Linked DNA regions of Homo sapiens: region 2 is linked to region 1. The links come from fine-mapping of genetic effects on gene expression. A gene starts in region 1. The other region holds a variant in brackets. All regions are shown on one strand. Distances are from middle to middle. Region 1 holds the start of MXRA7 (matrix remodeling associated 7). Region 2 overlaps MXRA7 (matrix remodeling associated 7).

Region 1 (5,362 bases):
CGGTGACAAGCCCAGGTCCCTGACAAGCTCCACAAGCTTAATGGACAGTGAATGTGCGGCTGTTGCGGCTGTTCACAGGGCCGCTGGTGAGGGCAGGTAGAAGAAAGTGCAGACCTTCTTAAATGCAGGTGTAACGGATCTACATGAAAGAGCATAATTAACACCAATGTATACTTAAGGTAGTAACAGCTTCTTCATAAAGTAGCAAAACTAAGGATCTGTGGGAAGGTTGCTGGTGCAAATGCTTTATAAGCTTACTAGAGACTGAGCCTTGGATTTAGGACTTTAGACGAGTATAGGATGGAACAAAATTTTTGCAGTAAATGTAAAAAATGCTGTGTAGGAGGAAGGCGTATAAGGATGCCCCAGCTGTAGGTTCTTTAGATTGTCTGTAGTATTTCCACGAGTAAGTTGTTTTTGATGTGTGTACTGGTATTGCTGGTAGATTTGAAGTGGAGTCTGGCGGCTTCTTCCACACTCCCCTCCCACTAGCTTGTGTCAAGATGTGACATCCTATGCAGCAAAACTAGGTGAGCTTGCACCCCCAGGCGGTGGCTCTCAACTTTGTCTCATTGTTCAGAAATTTCGGCCAGGCGCCGTAGCTCACCCCTGTAATCCCAGCACTTTGGGAGGCCATGGCAGGTGGATCACTTGAGGTCAGGAGTTCAAGACCAGCCTGGCCAACACGGTGAAACCCCGTCTCTACTAAAAATACAAAAATTAGCCAGGTGTGGTGGCACATGCCTGTAGTCCCAGCTACTTGGTCAACTCAGGCAGGAGAATCACTTGAACCCAGGAGGCAGAGGTTGCAGTGAGCTGAGATCAAGCCACTCCAGCCTGGGTGACAGACCGAGACTCTGTCTTTAAAAAAAAAGAAATGTCATCTAAGCCCCAGTGAACCTCCTGGGAGGAGAGCTAGCCCTGGCCAGCTGTCTCCAAAGTGACTGGATGCTACAGAAGAACTGGGACTGTCTTCTGCACACTCGTGCCTCCTGGAGTTGTCAGAACACTGAGCAGTCTCCTAGTTCTGCGTCCGTCTAGCCATGGGGTCTGCCATGAAAGCCTGTGGATCTGCTATTGGGTTGGTATTTTAAACTTTCACTTGGGTGAAACTTGTTCATCATTTTAAATAAAGCAACATGATTTGGAGTTGTGTTTTTGGCATTGTTTTGTCCTTATTTTCTTTCTTACTCATTTGAAAGTCAACAATGTACTTTGTCAGCAGAACAGGACTTTAAAAAAATGTATTTACACTTTAAAACAATGGGATGGAGCACAAAATTAAGGCCCTGGGCCAGGAGCATTGATGCACACCTGTAATCCCAGCTGCCCAAGAGGCTAAGGCAGGAGGATCACTTGAGCCCAGGATGTCGAGGCTGCAGAAAGCTATGATCATGCCTGTGAATAGCCACTGCACTCCAGCCTGGGCAACATAGTGAGACCCTGTCTCTTTAAAAAAAAAAAAAGAAAGAAAGACCCTGTCTCTTTAAAAAAAAAAAAAAAAAATTGGCTGGGCGCGGAGGCTCACGCCTGTAATCCCAACACTTTGGGAGGCTGAGGCAGGCAGATTGCCTGAGGTCAGGAGTTCAAGACCAGTCTGGCCAACACGGTGAAACCCTGTCTACTAAAAACAGAAAAAAATTAGCCGGGCATGGTGGTGGGCGCCTGTAATCCCAGCTACTCAGGAGGCTGAGGTGGGAGTTTCGCTTGAACCCGGGAGGTGGAGGTTGCAGTGAGCCGCGATTGCGCCACTGCACTCCAGCCTGGGCAACAGAATAAGACTCCATCTCAAAAGAAAAAAAATAGGCCCATACACTGGCTGAAACTTCCACAGTGGTTAAAAGCTAGTCGCCCGTAGATAAAGCCTATTTCACATTTTATAGTTTATAGGCTCTTTTCATCAACCACCACTAAAAGGAAGTGCATGGCCCGCTTAATATCGTGCAGTGCAGCAGAATTCAGCTCTCCCTGTTGCTGAGGGGTCTCGTTTGTGTATCTTCATTTAAAAAGAAGCACTCCATCTAATATCTGGTTTATATCACAGATCAGCTCAGGCACTGTAATATTCCCAAAAAAGTATTAAAGGCATCCTCAGCAAAAACTGGAACCGTGTTTTTTTTAACATTAGGCCTTATGTTTGGCGTGATACCTGACATGCCCGTCCTGTGTTTATTTAAAATAACTAAAGAGTGGGTGGGGAGTGGTAGGAAAGTATGTTTTTGGTTACAACGTGTTTATCTCAAAATCCACTGTTCAGCAACAGAGGCCTGGGAGGATCTGGAGAAACAAAAACAATAGCCTTCATTTCCTTCATTGTACCCTCCCACCCTGCATGCATTCTGGAATTGTGCAAAGAAGAAAGTCTGGTAAGAGGAATAGCGTTGACCAAGGACCTGCAGCTGAATTTCAGGTCTAGGGGCGGGGGAGCCATGTTACTGTTAACAGGGAGGCCTGTGTTGAAGGCTGCTGGCCTCAGCTCCGAAGGGAGCATTCACTGGCCGGGATCTGGAGATGTCCTCTGTGAAAGTGCATTAAGGCAACCCTGAGGATTAAAAGCAACTCCTGACATGCCTATAAAAACGGCAGTGGCTGAACGTAATCCGGCATTATGATTGCTTTACAAGCCAATCCAGGCTGCCGTTTCCATGAAGCTTCCCGGGTTTGCTTGTCTCTCTGCATTCCCACATTTCCAAAATGCTCTAAGACGAACCGCCGTACTAAGGCCAAAGATGACAACCTAAGGGCACCTCATACAGTATTTCAAATTGAACCTGAGCTAAATTGTGCCCCAAAGCGTCAAGGCTGCCCAGGCCGGGCAGGGGTTGGCCCTCCTGTGCCTCCCAGGTGGTCAGGGCTCTGCCCCCTCAACACCCCCGCCCGCAGCCTGTGCGTCACCCTCCCGGGGCCGGAGGGGGCGGGGGCGGGGCGCGGCGATGGGGGCTCCGCCCCGAGGCGGGGCGCGGCGACCGGGCGCGGCGACGGGGCGCGGCGGGCTCCCTCGGGGTCCCAGCTGGCCCGCACTCGGCGGCCGCGGCGCGATGGAGGCGCCGGCCGAGCTACTGGCCGCGCTGCCTGCGCTGGCCACCGCGCTGGCCCTTCTGCTCGCCTGGCTACTGGTGCGGCGTGGGGCGGCCGCGAGCCCGGAGCCTGCCCGCGCGCCCCCGGAACCCGCGCCCCCGGCCGAGGCCACCGGGGCCCCGGCGCCGTCCCGCCCCTGCGCCCCCGAGCCGGCGGCCTCGCCCGCGGGGCCGGAGGAGCCTGGAGAGCCCGCGGGGCTGGGGGAGCTCGGGGAGCCTGCGGGACCGGGGGAGCCCGAAGGGCCAGGGGATCCCGCGGCGGCGCCAGCGGAGGCGGAGGAGCAGGCGGTGGAGGCGAGGCAGGTACGCACCGGGGCCCTCGCGGCCCCCTCCCCACCCCCGGGGCTCCGGCTGCCGCTGCCGTTCCCCGCCGAGCCAGGGAGCGGGGCCGCGGCCTCCAGCCCAGGCTGCCCCCAGGAAGCGCAGAACCCGCGGCCCGCAGGAAATGCAGGTCCCGCCATGCTAAGCCGCAGCCCCGCAAACTCGCCGCCCTCCCCCAGAAAGTGTGGCGAGGGGCGAGCCCGAAGGAGTTTGTTTGGAGGTGTTTTGCTCTCCCCTCCCCTCGGCCTCTCCCAGCCCAGGGCGTGCTCCGCAGCTGCTGGCTCCCAGGCCTCGGGACCAGGGCTTGGAATTTTGCTCCTCACCCACTTCTGACCCCTCCCGCCCACCGGTTCCCAAATCCACGTGCCTGTGGCTTATTTCCAGGCCTGCCATGAGAGTTATCTTGATGTTTAAAAAGTAGGACTTTCGGGGGGCGAGGGAGGAAAGCTGGCTTTTCTTTTTCAGCCAATTTGAAGTCCAGATTTCAGAGTCAGTGCTGTGGCGTTTTGTGAAGCCCGTGGGCTGGGACTGAAAGAAAAGGCACCCGATCCCAGCAGTCCTTTTTATTGTCGTTTTCAAGCTACACATCTAACACCCTCCTACCCCCACTCCCCCGGGTTGTAGGTAAGCTGGGCCTGGATGGAGTGAAGATGCAGGATAAAGCCCTCCTGGAGCACCAGTGAGCACCCCAAAGCGGCCCTCCCTGCCTCTGCCCCAGGCCTCCCGCCATGCTGTCCATCAGCTCGGCCTTGGCCACCTTGTCCTGCCTGTGGATATCTGAGAGGAGTCGGATTTCCCTCATCCACTCATCCCAGCCCCTACACTGTGTGCCCATGTTCCCTGGAGTTCACCACGCTTGGCCGGTCCAGGCCACCGCCAGGGTCTCCGAGTCGGATTGTAATCCCTTGTTCTTACCCCTGAGCTCCTTTTCTTGGAAGGGAGGAGAGCCGGGATGCGCATTGTCAGCGTGCCTGCGTGTCTGCGTGCCCACTCTGTCCTGTGCTGGACACAATGGTTTACCCTGGAGAGAAGCCCTTCGGGGGAGGAGGAGGCAGCCAGGCTGTGCTCAGAGGCATTTCTCTTTGCTGAGTAAGTGCGCCAGACCCCCTCTGAGCAGGCGCTTTGCTTGACAAGTGGGTGACTAATTGTGTCATTAGAGAGGATTCTAACCAGCCACATTTAATGGGGTGGAGCAGGGGCAGGCCCTGCCGTTCTTGCTTGGGGTGGGCTTCCAGACCTCACGCGGTGATGGTGGAGGGGGCGCGGTTTGGACATGTGCTGATCTGTTGTGTTTGCTCCCATATTTGGGATTCCTGCCTCCATCGAGGTCTCGCGGGAGCAGGAGAGGCCTTTAGACAGTTCTGGAGCCGTCATGCACACTCAGTCAGTCCTGGCCTTACAGGGCTGGCCCTTTATCACCCACACCAGGCTCTGGACTGAAGTGCAAAATGTCCTTTAGCGGCGCCCTGTCTTAGCTCAATCCTGTGGGGCACAGCGCTTAAAGAACTTTCTACAAGGCTTTCGGCTCTCAGCACATGGTACCTACAGGAATAGGTTCAGTGGTGTTTAAATAGGGCCACTCGCATAATTTGCCACTGTCTGGGTGAATGCACGTCCTCTGAAGCTGAATGGGTGCTCTGAAGGACAAGGCAGTATGGGGGTTCGCGTGCCAGGCAGCCCCCATGACATAGGTGCCAGTGAGGATGACTTGAGGCTTGTGTCTGTCCTCCCGCTAAGGCACCCTCCAGAGAGAACCCACCCCACAGGAGAATTCAATTGAAGTCAGTGCCCTTCCCCTTTGGGTTCAAGTCCCCAGGCCTTCCTGAGCTGGCCAAAGCTCCCCCAAAACTCCTGCCTGCAAACATTAAGCCAGGTGCTGTGGGGACACAGATATTGTGTCATCCCACCCACTCCCAGTGGTGGCATTAACCTAAGAAGCTGCTTAGAAATTGTCTTGATGAGCT
Region 2 (5,362 bases), 26 kb after region 1:
TCCTGCGCTGCCTCCTAACTCCCCTTTTGTGACCGCGCTGTACATTTCACGATTCTCTCCAAACATCTCTGACCTATTTTACTGAGACGAAAACCACTCACACGGCCTCCCCCGTGCCTTCTTCAGAACGAAGGCCCCAGGAGGGCACACGCCTGCTTTCTAAGCAGCTCTGGCTGACTGGCCACAGGCCCCAGCCATGAGACTGAGAGGAGAAAGGGAGTGACCGAGAACAGGGGAGACACTGCCAGATCGGACCCGGCCAGGACAGACAGAGGCGGAACCAAACATGGAGTGGCTTCTGCTGGGTCCATCCACTTATTTCTCTAAAAAAGAAAGCGGAGGCAGACATGCAAGATGTCAGCGTTTGTTGGCTCTGTGTGGCAAGCACAGGGAGGATTAGTGCTTTCTGCATTTTTGTATGTTTGAAATATTTCATAATTTTAAAAAAGCAAGTCTGCTTTTGTGATGTTAAGTCGGCTGCTGGCAGGAGCAGTGGAAAGAGAAGGTTTCAGGAATGTAGGAACCAGCTCCTGCGGGCAGGCTGGGCTGGGGTGCAGAGCTTCCCCTGAGGCAGTGCCTTGGTTTCCATCAGCACAGCCTGAAGCAGGAGGGGAGAATGAAGCTTGGGTGCAGGCGGTGGGCTGCAGGTGGGGACATTAGTCCCTTACCAGGAAGGACCCTTGCTCCCTGCTTTTGGGGACTGGGGACTCACCGCAGCCATGGCCCTGGCATCTGTCCCTGCCATGTGGCCTGAGACAGCTGAAGGGATGCAGGGATCCTGTTAGTGACTTGGGGACACGGGAGGGAGGCCCTTTGGCAAGGACAAGGAGAGAGGCTCGCAGACCCCTCTCCCTGGCATAGCTGCCAGAGGGCACAGTCCCCCAGCACTGTCACCAGCCTCCCCCCTTATCTGCACCGCTGCTCCTGAACATCCCCCACCCCCAGCGCCTCCTGCCATCTTAGCCTCCTGCCATCTCTAGCAAGGCAGGGAAAGGAAAGGTTTATGGCTCCAGCTGTTGGAAGAATGTGTGAGCACCTCCAGCCCCTCTGCAGTACGAGGCAGCCTCAGAGGTTAATTATTAGTGTCGCTAAAATGACTTCCCTGAGCGACTAGGTGAATTCACAGGAGACTGGAGGAAGAAACCTCCCCCGTCCCTCGGAGGCTGTCACGTTGAATTCTGGTCTAGCAAAACTGGATGCGCTGCCTGGTGCACTGCATGTGACTGAGCGAAATCCTTTTCAAGTCGTTTGTTCTGTCTGGCTCAGAAAACAAAACTAATCAGACTTGCCCCATAAATTGAAACCTAAGACTGGGACCAAGGCAGGATTTTGTATGTTTTCTTTTTTTGGGGGGTAGGGGGATACTGGAATCTTACTCTATTGCCCAGGCTGGAGTACAGTGGCGCGATCTCGGCTCACTGCAACCTCTGCCTCCCGGGTTCAAGCGATTCTCCTGCCTCAGCCTCCTGAGTAGCTGGGATTACAGGCGCCTGCCACCACGCCCGGCTAATTTTTTGTATTTTTAGTAGAGACGGGGTTTTGCCACATTGGCCAGGTTGGTCTCGAACTCCTGGCCTCAAGTGATCCACCTGCCTTGGCCTCCCAAGGTGCTGGGATTACAGGCATGAGCCACCACACCCAACCAGATGTTTGGGTTCTGAATTCGCATCTAGAACCTTCTTCCTTTCACCCTGAGAGCCCCCCCGCCTCCCCATCGGTCCACATCAGCCTATCCGGTAGCATGAAGGCTGCAAGCTAGAGGGGAGGGGCCTGGCTTTTCGGGCTGCTGGACAGGATATGGAGGGACAGAGAGGGCAGCACTTCCAGAATAGCAGCTGAGGATCTCTCTATGCCTCCCTCACTGGGTCCTTTAGTTAGTGGAGGTCGATAAGAGGCCAGCCAGCTCTGCCCGACACCTGCTGGATTCAGGAACCAAGAGGTTGCTCCCCCATGGGGCTTTTCCCTCTGGAAGCTCAGCTTTTCTCTCCTCACCGTGGCTCATGTGCCCGGAGCCTGTGTCCACTCCAGGCCACAGGTCCTGGCTTCCTCTGTGCCCACCACCTACCCATCCATGTGCCCTCTTCAGGCCTCGAGATCTGTCCGTTTTTTGCAGGCAGCAATGGGGGGTCTCCCCTCGGGGACTGGCAAATCGGGCTCTGCCTCTTCAGCGGTACACACGTCAAACCTGCTGCAGCAAATCCCGCATCCCTGGCCTGGCCACTGTGGGCTGCCTGGATGCGTGTTTTCAGATTTCCAATAGCCACAGGGGGTGGGGGGATGACACAAGCCTCCCCAAGCCCAGGCAGGCG[T/C]GGTGTGTGTCCCAAGATGAGCTGTGCTCTGCTTGCCGGAGTTGTCGCCTCTGAGCTCAGTAGCCGAGAGGACCTGCTGGGCAGGGCCAGGGCAAGGCAGAGCACTGCAGATGTTGGGAGGGATGTGGCATCTGGAGACAGCTGTGGACTAGGAGTAGGACTGCTTTCTCTCTGGCTGTCTCGTTGTAGGATTTAAGGGAAAGCTATGGAACGAGAGGGGGTATAGGCGCTGGGGTGAGATGTCTCTGATAGCCAGATGTGGCCTCTGCTTGAGGTGTTTCTTTTTAAACCTAGGGAAAGGGGGCCGGGGTTTGTGGGGCCAGCCTCTACAGCACTCCTGGCACTTACTGGGTCCCCCCTCCACAGGAGAAGGCTTCTCCTTCAAATACAGCCCCGGGAAGCTGAGGGGAAACCAGTACAAGAAGATGATGACCAAAGAGGAGCTGGAGGAGGAGCAGAGGTAGGCTGCAGCCCCTTCGCTGGCGCCTGGCGGGCTCTTGGGGGAGGGGGGTGCCCCTCTGAGCCCTTCATGTTCCTGCCCCTTGGCAGAAGGGCCCAGAAAGGAGGTGGGGCTCCTACACGCTCTGCCCAACCACCGCCCCACCTTCCCAGTTTAGGAGTTCTTTCCTGCCCTGGTCAGCCAGGCTCGCACACCCCTGGCACCCCTCCCTGGCACTGACCAGAAGGAGGCCACTGGTGATGGGGGATACAGAGCCCATTTACTGCACCCCCCCACCCCCTCCACACCCCACTGCCCCCATCTAAAGAAATGAGATGCCAGGAAAGAGCCTGGAGCAGACCTGGCTGTCACTCACACACACAGTCCCCAACAGAGCTGATTTCTCCATTTCTCCTTCGGGACACAGCGGATTCTTGGTGCTCATCCTTCAGCGGCCTCCCAGGCCGGCGCCTGCAGCAGCGCCTTGTAGCTCCGGGCAGTGCAGCTATGGCTTCTCGTTGTTGGAATTGGCTCCCCCTTCCCATTTGGACACCCCCTGCACAGCCACTGGGCACCCCGCCACCTTTTCCCTCCACACCATCCTGCTGGGCGGGGAAGGGGTGCGCTGGGCACAGTGGGACAGCTGGGGAGGTCTCAGCAGAGGGACAGTCCTTTGCACCAGGCGCAGCAGGCTCCTGGTGCTCACCCACACTGCTGCCCTTCTGCAGCGTGGCCTGGAGTCCTTTGGTTAAAGCAGAAGTCTAGGTGGTAGCTGTGCCATTTTCCAAGCCTGGCGACCCAGAGCAGCTTGTGGGAATCACCCCCTACTTGTCAGCAGAAACCAGCGGTCTAGGGTCCGAGCAGGAGGGGTGGTTTATGATTTTGGAATCAGAACTCAACTGCCCTCTCATGGCTGCATGCCAAGCCACCCGCCGGGCAGCCCTCTAACCTCACAGCTGCTCTGCCGGTGACAGGCCCTGTCTCCCCTCCCGCTGCTGGCATCAGCGCTCTCGACCCTCAGCAGGAAAGCTCTTCACCCTGGGTGGGTGGGGGGCGGGCAGTGTAAGCACAGCCAGGAGGAAGAGCCCTGGCAGGAGCCCCGAGTCCTCAGGTGCTGAGGATGCTGCCGCTTGGCATGACCAGGTTTGCTGCATTTATATTTCAGGATTGAGCTGACCTCTGACCTCACTTCCCTGTAGCAAGTTCCTTAGGTCCTGAGCCACAAATATTCTTGCAAATCCTTTTGGTAAGGACACTGATTTCTTAGACTAGTGGTGCTCCCCTTCTACTGCGTGCTAACGTGCCCCCAAACAACTGACGCGGCCTCAACCTCCCCTCCTCCATCGCCTTCATAACCGATTAATACATTTCCCACCTGAGCCCTTCTCATTCTTCTCAAGCACGAGGAATCTCTGGCAGAAGAGGCCCCGTCTGGGGGCAGAGGTTCCTGGAGGGGAGTTAAGTCCCTGAGTTCCTGGAGGGGGCCTAATGGGCCGGCAGGTTGGGGTGCTAGCGCCCCCTCGCAAGGCTGGGGGAACTGTCACCCTGGGACCTCAGGCTTCGGAAATGTGGATGTCGTCACCCTGCAGCCTTGGGTCTCACCCTGAGAAGATGAGGCAGCTTCTGCACAGTGCACAGCAGATACTCTGAGAACGGTCCGTGCTCCCAAGCTGTGAGACAGGCAGGTTCTTAGGATCAGGGCAAGGGTTAGCAGACAACGGCCGGGCCACATCTGATCCCCCACCTGCCTGTGCCAATCCAGCGTGGCAGTAGTAGCAACACTCACCCATTTTCCTGTGGTCTGTGCCTCTTTGTGCCGCAGTGGCCGAGGTGAGTCACTGCAGCAGAGACCACACAGCCCCCCAAATCTAAGTAGTATCTGGCTGTTTGCAGAAAAAGGTTGCAGTCCCTGGACAGAGGCTAGAGGGGGCTGGACACAACTGCCAGCCCTTGAAGGTCCCTGGGGACAGAGGCTGCTCAGGCAGATGGATCTGGAGGGCCTCTTAGAACAAGAAAGACCAGGCCTCCGGCTGGGGGTGAAACTGCCACTGCCACCCACGTCCAGAGCTGGGACCTTGGCAGTGGGGAGGGAAAATCCCTTCCCCTTATTTTCAGAGAGTAGACCCTCTGCTGCCCATCCTTCCCCCACTGGATCTTTGGAGGTCTCTAGACCACCAACCCACACTTGGCTGTTCTGTGGGACCGAGACTGTGCCCGAGGTGCTGCTCCTGGGACGAGGGAAGACTCCTCGACTCCTCTGCATGCTGCAGTTACCACTTTGTGCCCTGAATTGAGAAGGAGGGGCCGGAGGACTTCTTGGGGCAGGACTGGAGTTCACGTTCATTCCCATCACTGCCCAGCCCGCATGCTCCCTGTGGCTCCTAGGCATGCCGGTGGCATCTGCTTGCTCCCCCACACCTCTGCCCCCCTGCATGTGGTTGCCCCTCGCAGCACTGCGTGGGGTCTCCGCGGCTCCACATCACGCTGTCCTCACACGGTGATGCTTGGGGTTGCAGAGGCTGGTCAGTTTGGCTTTGGCTCTTCATCTTCAGCACGATGGTTCTCATGGGGGTGGGGAGCGCTGGCAGCTGTGAGACAGTTCTGGTCCCAGCCA

The links.
Region 2: its variant is fine-mapped to the expression of MXRA7 in sigmoid colon (GTEx, PIP above 0.99).

What each region holds. Positions count from the first base shown.
Region 1 is chr17:76,708,623-76,713,984 of GRCh38, reverse strand. MXRA7 (matrix remodeling associated 7) reads left to right here and starts at 3,020. Exons shown (of 4, transcript NM_198530.4): 1 at 3,020-3,380. The coding sequence starts at 3,039. It also overlaps a transcript of JMJD6 not described here. RefSeq lists a silencer at 2,789-2,998.
Region 2 is chr17:76,682,479-76,687,840 of GRCh38, reverse strand. It overlaps MXRA7 (matrix remodeling associated 7), which reads left to right. Exons shown (of 4, transcript NM_198530.4): 3 at 2,676-2,769. Among named protein-coding and RNA genes, the nearest start is that of MXRA7, 26 kb to the left of the region's middle. RefSeq lists enhancers at 450-1,245, 3,228-3,772, 4,866-5,362. The variant T/C (reference allele first, on the strand shown) is at 2,310.